Linked DNA regions of Homo sapiens: region 1 is linked to region 2. Evidence: fine-mapped expression QTL. A gene starts in region 2. The other region holds a variant in brackets. All regions are shown on one strand. Distances are from middle to middle. Region 1 overlaps ZGRF1 (zinc finger GRF-type containing 1). Region 2 holds the start of ZGRF1 (zinc finger GRF-type containing 1).

Region 1 (5,388 bases), 37 kb after region 2:
TCACCTGTTTAACATCTAATAGATTTTTTTTCTTCTGATATTTCCCTTCTCTCTTTAAATATGACACTGAGTACCTCTAGTTGCTACCAAAGGCAGATTTCTGGGGATGAAAATAGAGGTCATGAGGTTAGAATGATAAGCATGTATTTGAAACAGTGTTCATCAAAGAGATTTTTTTTTAAATTTCCCTTTTTGTCAAAGCATAATACATATGAGAAGAAATAAAGAAAAAAAAGCATAATACATATATGAAATAAGTAAATCATCACAAAGCATACTCATATAACCTCCACCTTTAACAAATAGAGCATTCTCAGCATCTCAGAAGCTCTCCTTCTGCCCCTTTTCAATCACTACCCTTTTCACTTTTCCCTAAGATATCCACTGTCTTGACTTATAACCATCTATTAGTTTTGCTTTTAAAACTTTATATAAATAGAATCATACACAGTGTATTCTTTGTGTCTGCCCTCTTTTGTTTAATATTGCAATTCTGAAATTCATTTATGTTGTTGCCTGTGGCTATAATTTATTCATTTTAATTGCTGGTGTAGTATTCTGTTGCATAAATATATCCCAATTTATCCATTCTTCAGATGTTTGTGTTATTTGTGTTAAGGGACTATTACAGATACTGCTGCTGTGAACATTCAAGTACCATCATGAACATGTACATATACACACATGCGTGACATACTTATGTTGGTTATATTACCTAGGAGTAGCATCATTGAGTCACTGGATAGGATATATTTACTTTTAGTACATAATGCAAAACTGATTTCCAAAGTGGTTTTTATAATTTACATTTCCATTAGGAGTGTATGAGAGTGCCCATCACTCTACATCTTTACCAACACTTGATGCTGTTTTTGGTTTTCAGTTTTAGCTATTCTGGTGGGTATATATTGGTACTTCAGTTGTAGTTTTAATTTGCATTTTCCTGCCTGATAGTGAGGTTGGGACCTTTTTTGTATGCCTATTGGCCATCTCTTTATCCTCTTTGATGTAGTGCCTGTTCAGCTTTCTTCCTTTTTTTTTTTGAGACAGAGTTTTGCTCTTGTTGCCCAGACTGGAGTGCAATGGCGTGATCTTGGCTCACTGCAACCTCTGCCTCCTGGGTTCAAGCGATTCTCCTGCCTCAGCCTCCCAAGTAGCTGGGATTACAGGCATGTGCCACTGAGCCCAGCTAATTTGTATTTTTAGTAGAGATGGGGTTTCTCCATGTTGGTCAGGCTGGTCTCGAACTCCTGACCTCAGGTGATCTGCCGGCCTCGTCCTCCCAAAGTGCTGGGATTACAGGCGTGAGCCACCATGCCTGGCCTCTTCCTCATTTTTTAATTGACGTGCTTATCTTTTAAAAAATTTTCTGGAATTCTTTATATAATTTGGATACCTACTCATTGTCAGTTGTATGCTTTGCAAATATCTTTCCTGACCCTTACTTACCTTTTCACTCTTAATGGTATCTTTGATGAATCAAAAATTTTTCTTTTTTTGTTGTTTTTTGAGACAGAGTCTTAACTCTGTCACCCAGGCTGGAGTGCAGTGCATGAACATGGCTCACTGCAGCCTCAACTTCTTGGACTCAAGCAATCCTCCTGCCTCAGACTCTCGAGTAGCTGGGACTACATGTGCCCACCACTATGCCCAGCTAATTTTTTTTTTTTTTTTAGACAAGGTCTTGCTCTGTCACCCAGTCTGGAGTGCAGTGGCGTGATCTCAGCTCACTGAAACCTCTGCCTCCTGGGTTCTAGCAATTCTCCTGCCTCAGCCTCCCGAGTAGCTGGGATTACAGACATGCGCCACCATGCCTGGCTAATTTCTTGTATTTTTAGTATGGTTGCATATACATTTAGAACTAGCTTAACAATTTGCTATGTTGGCCAGGTTGTTCTCAAACTCCTAGCCTCAAGTGATCTGCCTGCCTCGGCCTCCCAAAGTGCTGGGATTACAGGCATGAGCCACTACTCCCGGCTGCCCAGCTAATTTTTAAAATTTTTTTGAGATGTTGTTTCACCAGGTTGCTGCTGGTTTTGAACTCCTGGGCTCAAACGATCTTCCTGCCTCAGCCCCCCAAAGTGTTGGGATTATAGGTGTGAACCACCACGCCTGGCCTAGTTTATCATTTTTTTTTTTTTTTTGAGATGGAGTCTTGCTCTGTTGCCCAGGCTGGAGTGCAGTGGCGTGATTTTGCCTCACTGCAACCTCTGCTGTTGGGGTGATCAGACCCAACACCAGGTTGTAGGGGTGATGAAGTCTGGCAGAGTCAAAGGATTGAGAAAAAGACAGTATGAGAAGTAAAACTGGGACCAGGTGGCCATCGCGATCATGGAGGCTGCGAAGGCCCCGATCTCTGGGAGCCCACACTGTTTATTGGTAATCCAACAGAGAAACAGGTGGTGAGAATGTGGAGGTCAAAAGGGCAGGCACATGATCTACAGCTGTGACAGTTTAGCATTTATAAGGAACGTGTTCT[G/C]CTACTTGAGATAATGGGAATAGGAGCCTAGGAGGGCTAGAAGCAAGGAGCCAGCAAGTCTACACACATTCCAGAGGACATTATGTCAGTCATGCAAGCCCTACCTCAGTTTCCCTCCCAACACTCAGCTTGTTCCCAACACTCCGCCTCCTGGGTTCAAGTGATTCTCCTGCGTCAGCCTCCCAAGTAGCTGGGATTACAGGTGCCCACCACCACGCCAGCTAATTTTTGTATTTCTAGTAGAGACGGGGTTTCACCATGTTGGCCAGGCAGGACTCGAACTCCTGACCTCGTGATCCGCTTGCTTCGGCCTCCCAAAGTACTGGGATTACAGGAGTGATCCACCACACCTGGCCCTAGTTTATCATTTTTAATGTAATTTATTTGCTGTTTCCTTTACGATTAGCGCTTTTGTATCTTAAGAAATCTTTCTCTGGATGACAAGGTCACTCACACCTGTAATCCCAGCACTTCAGGAGCCTGAAGCAGGAGGATCACTTAAGGCAAGGAATTCAAGACCAGCCTGGGCAACATAGTGAGACTCGGTCCCTACAAAAAAAATTTAAAAATTAGGTAGGTGTCATGTTGCGTGCCTCTAGTCCCAGCTACCCAGCAGGCTGAGGTAGGAGGATTGCTTGAGCCTGGGAGATTGAGGCTGCCTTGAGCCATGATCATGCCACCACACTGGGTGACAGAGTGAGATCCTGTATCAAAGAAAAAAAAACATTACCTCAAGATCATGAAGATATTCTCTCATATTATCTTGTACAAGCTTTATTAATTTACATTTCACATTTTGATCTACAGTTTACCTGTAATTGATTTTTATGTATTGAGTACATTTTATGTAAAGTTACATGTTTTCTCCATATGAATATTCAGTTGACCCAGCACCATTTATTGAAAAAGCTATCTTTTCTTCATTCCTTTGCCATGAATCAAGGGTCCATATATTAAGGGTCTCTTATTAGTTTCTCTTCTGATTTATTGGTCTGCAATTTCAGAAGTCACAAAGCATGTGTTTTCTTTCTTTCTTCCTTTTTTTTTAAACAGAATCTCACTGTGTCACCCAGGCTGAAGTGCAGTGGCATTATACAGGCTCATTGCAGCTTCAAACTCCTGGGCTCAAGTGATCCTCCCTCCACAGCCTCCCAAGTAGCTGAGACTGTAGGCACACACCACCATGCCTGGCTAATTTTTTTTTTTTTTTTTTAGACACAGGGTCTTGCTATATTGCCAGGCTGGTCTCAAACTCCTGACTCAAGCAGTCCTCTCACCTTGGTCTTCCAAAGTGCTGGGACTGTAGGCGTGAGCCACAGTGGCTGGCCTATGTACTTCCTATGTATCTTTAAATCTTCCCACCTCATTCTTCTCATTTTTTTACATTTGCATATATGTTTAGAACTAGCTTAATGGTTTTCACACATACAAGCTGGGAATTTGGATGAAATTCCATTGTGCATGTCAATTTTGGGCAGAATTAACATTTTTATAATATGTTATTGATAAATTTTCAATATTATAAAAATATTTCCCTCTATTTCAATCTGCTGCAATATCTTCCAGTAATGTTTTACAGTTTTGGTATAGAGGTTCTCTATATATTATTTGTATATTTGATTTGTAGGAGCTCTTCGCTCTTTACATACTAAGAAAATTAACCCTTTGTCATTTTTTTCCACTACATTAGTGCTTTGACTCTGATTTTTTTGTTTTTGAGAAGGAGCCTCACTCTGTTGCCCAAGCTGGAGTGCAGTGGCATGATATTGGCTCACTGCAACCTCTGTCTCCCAGGCTCAAGTGATTCCCCCACCTTAGCCTCCTGAGTAGCTGGGACTACAGGTACACACCACCAAACCTCGCTAATTTTTAAATTTTTTATAGAGATAGGGTTTTACCATGTTGCCCAGGCTGGTCTTGAACTCCTGGGCTCAACCGATACACCTGCCTTGACCCCCCAAAGTGTTGGGATTCTAGGCATCTGACACCGTGACTGGCCTGATTATGATTTTTCTAAAATTAAATGTTTTAATTTATGTAATAAGATTTGTCAGTGTTTTTTGTGATTTCTGGAGCTCAGAACTCTTTTTCACTTAATGTTTTTAATTAATAAAAACATTATTTTATTATTAATTAATAAAAGCACCTTGATGCTTTTAATAACTATTGTGATTTTGCACTGTCTTTAGCAAGAGCTAATGATTACAGTGGCTACAGTAAAATTAGTTGTTTCTGAATCCCTCCTTTATATTCTTCCAGGCACCTATAATATTAAGTTATATTATAACTTTAAGATAAATATATATTCAATGTTTTCGTTATTATAAATGTTTTAATATTTTCACTGCTGAGCCAATTGGTATACTATGATTACATTTTCTTCCCTTTATAACTTTGGGTTTTTCCGGTTTATAATTGTCTCTTTTTAAAATTTGCTTAGTGTTTTTTGAATACTGGGGCAAAGTTTTTCCATACCCTCAAAAAGCTGTATAAAATACTCCTTAATACAGGAATTCACACATACTTTTCATATAATCTGTGTCAGTTCCATTATTTTCCTATGGCATCTTTTCCAGGTTTTTCATCTGCCTGCTTCAGTATGCACTGTATAATTGACAACTTAAGAATGCCCATTGCTGCCTTCCTAGCATGAGTTGCTTACATCTTGAACACCATGTCTCCTTTCTTGTTATGCTGGAGTACATCTTTGAATACCTCCAAAGAAAGGGAGCAAGGGGAGATAAAATTTGGGAGACTTTGCATGTTGAAAATGGTTTTTTTTGCTTTCATACTTGATTGATAGTTTGACTTAGTGTAGAATTTGGATATGATCTGCTTTATTCTTTTTTTTTTTTTTTTCAGTGTGTGTGTGTGTGGGTACATTTTGAGACAGTCTGGCTCTGTCACCC
Region 2 (5,388 bases):
GAACAAACACAAACGTAGGCTATAATTATCAATTATTCTATAATTGATAATTATAATTCTATAATTGATAATCTATAATTATAAATTATTGATAATTATCCAATTATCAATAATTCTATCCAATTATTCTATCCAATCTCTTGTTAAATCCTATCAGTTTGACTTTTGAAATGGCTCTCATCTCCATCCAGTGTTTTCTACAACTACTGCTACAACTGTCACTAGAATATGCCAATAGTTTATAAACTGTTCTGTAAGTCACCCATTCTCAACAGGAGCCTATGTATAACCCATCTAAAACACAGACCTGGTTTTGTGATGCTTCTGTCAAAACTTGCAACATTAGAAATTCCTTAGCACCTTCCCGTAACATAATATGCAGTTTATGAAAACACTGTTTTAAAAAAAAAAAGTAACACTTGGCCAGGCGCGGTGGCTCACGCTTGTAATCCCAGCACTTTGGGAGGCCAAGGCGGGCGGATCACGAGGTCAGGAGATGGAGACCATCCTGGCTAACAAGGTGAGACCACGTCTCTACTAAAAATACAAAAAAAGAAAAAAGAAAAGAAAAAAATTAGCCGGGCATGGTGGCAGGCGCCTGTAGTCTCAGCTACTTGGGAGGCTGAGGCAGGAGAAAGGTGTGAATCCGGGAGGCGGAGCTTGCAGCGAGCCGAGATCGTGCCACTGCACTCCAACCTGGGCGGCAGGGCAAGACTCCGTCTCAAAAAAAAAAAAAAAAAAAGTAACATTTAACTGGCTTTAAATGAAGAATAAAAGTTATTGGGTAACAATACCAGTAACTTTATATACACTTTTGTAAATCCTCACAATCCCACTAGGTAGCAGTTTCTTCCATCTTAACACAAAAACTCAAAAAGGTTTAAGTGACTTGGCCAAAGCTAGCTAAGTAAGTTGTCCCAGGTATGTTTGATCCCACATTGTCTACCTTTTGGTAGAATTTCCCGCAATTTATCACCACGGACTCTATGTTCTGACTCAGGAATTCTTAATCTGAAGTCCATGCAACTTTGGCTGGACAAGAATTCTAGTGGGCTCCATTAAATTGTAAATGATACATTTTAAAGATAAGGTAAAATCAAGACTCTTGTACAAATATAAAATGAATACACGGTAAAGATTTAAGCACAGTCATGGGTTGCTTAACGACAAGGACACATTCTGAGAAATGCACAGTCAGGTGAGTAAGTACATCATTGAGTATGTAGTTATTCTATGATGTATTCACACAAACCTAGGTACTATTGCCTATTACTCACCTATAATCTTATGGGACCACTGTCATACATGCGGTCTGTCGGTATGTGGTGCTTGACTGTAAATAAGGGAACCAGTTAAGTGCTAAAAACCAGTTCAAAGGAGAATTTAAAAAGCAGGTACACAGGCAATCAGGAACGTTGAAATGAATATTAATAAATACTGCTCAGGACAATAATTAATTGCATCTTTACTGGACAAACCTAATTTCCATGTTGCTGTAGCGAGTTACAGGGTTGAAAAATAGTTCAAAGACCACGAAAGACATAGATAACTTGGAAGAGTGAGTCAGACAAGACACCAAGTCATTTGTGTGTGTTTGCTATTTAAAAGTATTTCGTAATTTCTCCTGAGGAAATTATATGAAAAATGTTTGTTTGGAGACGCAGCCTCTCTCAGTGGCCCAGGCTGCAGTGCAGTGGCGCGATCCCGGCTCACTGTAATCTCTGCTTCCCGAGTTCAAGCGATTCTCCCAACCAAGCCTCTTGAGTAGCTGGGACTACAGGTGTGCACCACCACTCCCCGCTAATTTTTGTGTTTTTAGTAGAGACGAGATTTTGCCATATTGGCCAGGCTGGTCTCGAACTCCTGACCTCAAGTGATCCTCCCGCGTCGGCCTCCCAAAGTGCTGGGATTACAGGCGTGAGCCACCGTGCCCAGCCTCGCAAAATGTTTTAATAGGTACATGCACGTTTTCCTGAGAAGCTAATCCATATAATTAAGTTTTCAAAAGAAGTGTGCCACAACAGGTTAAGAATCATTGTTCTGGTCACTGCTTACAACTCAAGTCCCTCAACACGTAGTGGCCTGTGTGTTCTGCTTTGTCTGAATCTTCTCGTCTAAATTTCCTTATTAAATTTTCAAGGCCCAGGTTAAATGGCATCTTACTCTTTGAGATCTTCCACCACCCTGTGTCCTATCATTTGTTTTCTCTTAAGTTTCTTTGCAAACGCACTCTGCACACCATATCTAGCAAGTGTTAGTTCCCTTCCGTAACTGGATTTTTTACTCTTTGAGGACGATGGCAGAGTCCTGCAAAAGAAGATGATAATTTTAGAATATAAATCCTCACGTTCGCTATCTTCTGGCAGCCACAGCTCAGCTCCAATCTGCGAAATACGGCACTCTCTTTATTGACTACTGCTTCTCTCGGCACCCGTACTTCCGCAAGGACGCCGTCATAGGCCGGGCGCGCCCCAAACCTCCCCACGCCGGGCCCCTATGCGCCCTTACTGTCTGAAAACGGGAACTACAAGTGCTGCCGAAGACTTTTGCGCGTGCGCATAGATAACTAGGCCAAGGAACTGATGGGTGTGCAGGACGGGGGGGCGGGGTAAGAAGGACGATAGATGATAGAGTGGACCGCAAGAAAAAGGACGGAGAGTTAATTAGACTTCGCCCAAGCTGTGCGACCCTATAGGCCGCTTGTAACTTACTCCGTTCGACTCCCAAAATACAGGGTCAAGTACTGCGGCCTTCGGACATTTCCGTCTCCGGATCCTGATAGTCTCGGTTACTTTCGCGTCATAGGATGAGCGACAACGTTTTCCGGTCCCAATTGAGAAAGACGGGCCCGGAGGCAGTGCGCGCTCCACCTACGTCACAGGCGAGGTGGTTCCAGGAGGGCTGGGCATCGGAGAGCGCGGCCGGCTGAGAGACTCGAAGCCAAGGAAGAATTTGATTGGCGATTTGAAAGCGGCGGTTTTTGGCTTAGGCGGAGGTGGGCGGGCCAAGTTTTGGGTCCTCATCTGGTGAGGTCCCGCGTTAATGACGTCACGTTGTTTCGCGGGAGAAATTCGAAAGTGGATTTTGTGCAATTTGACAGGTGAGGTGAAGTGTTTCTCGGGATTTCCTAGGAATGACTTGAGCGATTTGGGGCGAAGGGACGAAAGACTCTGCTCCTTAAGAAGAGAACCGGGAAGGATGCTGTTTGGAACCAGGATTGGGGTGGTCGCAGTCACAGCTACTCGGACTGCTTGTAGTAAGTGGTGCCTCTTCACCGTTTTTCCCAGGCCTTGCTTTGCAATTTCGAGTAGGTATGAGGACCAAAGAGGGCTTTGCTGTTTGTATTTAGGACTGAGAAAGGATCAAGTCTCCATTGTCATTTGGTGACAGGATTATGGTTCTTAGAATCTTGGCAAATGAGATGTGGGTTTCCTTTGTTTATTTGGACTGGATGGTTTGTTAACAATGTTGAGTTCATGATTCCAAAACTTTGTTATCCGAACTATTTAGAGGTTCAGGTTTAGGTTCAAAAAATACTCCTTGTTTAAAAAAAAAGGAAAAATATCTAGTATTTAAATGAATAATGGCTCATACTTTACTGAGAACACCGAGTTTTATGTATATATATTGCGTCCGTACATATAGTAGCACAATGTATATGTATGTATATGTGTGTATGTACGTATATCTGTGTGTATGTATGTATGTATATAATTATCACAGAGCATCTGGGGTCTTTAAAAACTTATTTGGAGATTAATCTTTCACCTATTAGAAGTCGGTCAACAGGTGAATTGTCTGGTAGACGTGGACAGATGAACACTTGGAAAAAACTCTTTGCATCTCACTTAAATATATATGATGCTGTTGTCTAAAATAATTTTTTCTGATTAATACTAAGATAAGAAAGGGTGTTGACTTTCAATGAATAAGTATTAGAGCTCTTCTAAATTTTAAAAGATCCAGTTAGCTTTTTTTTTTTAGGTTTTCTCCTATAATCGAATTTAACCATCCTTTAAGAGTTTCAGTCTTCTTAGTTCTTTTTAAACTGTACATTCCAGAAGTAATATCTCAATTTAGGAAAATAATGGAGAATTTATCTTGCAATTGTGAAATAGCATATAAGTTATCCTAAACTAGTAAATACTGGGTTCCTAATCTGTAAATTGTAATAATGCTTATTCTTCAGGATTATGAGACTGATAAATACTGTATGTAAAGTATCTCGTCCAATTCCTGCCTGATACATAGTATGTAATCAATAAATATATATAATTACACACGATAATCATATAATTGTATATTACATAATACAGTAATATAGTTATATATTATATAATTACATAATAATTATAATGTATATAATTAACAATATAATGTATATAATGTTTATAATATAGCACTTTGGGAGGCTGGAAGGATTGCTTGAGCCCAGGAGTTTGAGGCCACAGCGAGCTATGATTGCAACACTGCACTCCAGCCTAGGTGACAGAGTGAGACCCTGTCTCTGTAAAAGAAAAAGAAAAGTTAAAAAGCCAACAGAAACAAAACCTCCAAATAAAGCATTTAACAGTTTCTAGCATATGGTAGCACTGAATAAATGGTAGCTATTAAACAGATCTGATATTAATAATTGCCACATGCCCAGCACTGTGTCTGTACCATGTATTCTCATCTATGTATACAGCATATCTAGCCCAGGAGTGTTTTTCTCGATCTCTCTTTTATCTTCTTGGCATTCTTAGGCATCAGCAATTTATGTACGCCGGAGGGGAGGGAGATAGGATGTGGAAGTTGTATTTCTTTTTTTTTTTTTTTTTTGAGATGGAGTCTCGCTCTGTCGCCCAGGCTGGAGTGCAGTGGCGTGATCTCTGCTCACTGCAACCTCCGCCTCCCGGGTTCAAGCAATTCTCCTGCCTCAGCCTCCTGAGTAGCTGGGACTACAGGCCTGTGCCACCATGCCCAGCTAATTTTTGTATTTTTAGTAGAGACGGGGTTTCACCATGTTGGTCAGGCTGGTCTCGAGCGCCTGACCTCATGATCCACCCGCCATGGCCTCCCAGAGTGCTGGGATTACAGGCGTGAGTCACCACACCCGGCCAGGAGTTATATTTCTGAAAGGCAGTCCTTCTGTAGGTTTGGTTTCTGTCCTGTGACCTGTGTCACGAAGCAAGTATGCATATCTCATTTGCATACCCCTTACCTATTCTTTCTCCAGATCACCTTGATTAGTCAAGGGAAGATGCCAGTCACTTTCTTGCACTTCACCGCCCCCGCCTCGCCCTTTTATTTTTTTTTTTTGAGACAGTTTTGCTCTTGTCGCCCAGGCTGGAGTGCAGTGGCGTGATCTCGGCTCACTGCAGCCTCTGCCTCCTGGGTTCAAGTGAT

What was found. PIP is the estimated chance that this variant, and not a neighbour inherited with it, causes the effect. A credible set is the group of variants that fine-mapping cannot tell apart.
Region 1: its variant is the best candidate, but not a certain one, in a credible set for the expression of ZGRF1 in whole blood (INTERVAL, PIP 0.51).

Annotation. Positions count from the first base shown.
Region 1 is chr4:112,597,859-112,603,246 of GRCh38, reverse strand. All of the region lies in intron 10 of ZGRF1 (zinc finger GRF-type containing 1), which reads left to right. Among named protein-coding and RNA genes, the nearest start is that of ZGRF1, 36 kb to the left of the region's middle. The variant G/C (reference allele first, on the strand shown) is at 2,480.
Region 2 is chr4:112,634,563-112,639,950 of GRCh38, reverse strand. ZGRF1 (zinc finger GRF-type containing 1) reads left to right here and starts at 3,042. Exons shown (of 28, transcript NM_018392.5): 1 at 3,042-3,100. It overlaps LARP7 (La ribonucleoprotein 7, transcriptional regulator), which reads right to left and starts at 2,808. Exons shown (of 13, transcript NM_016648.4): 1 at 2,712-2,808. RefSeq lists enhancers at 2,256-2,365, 2,406-2,455, 3,026-3,245.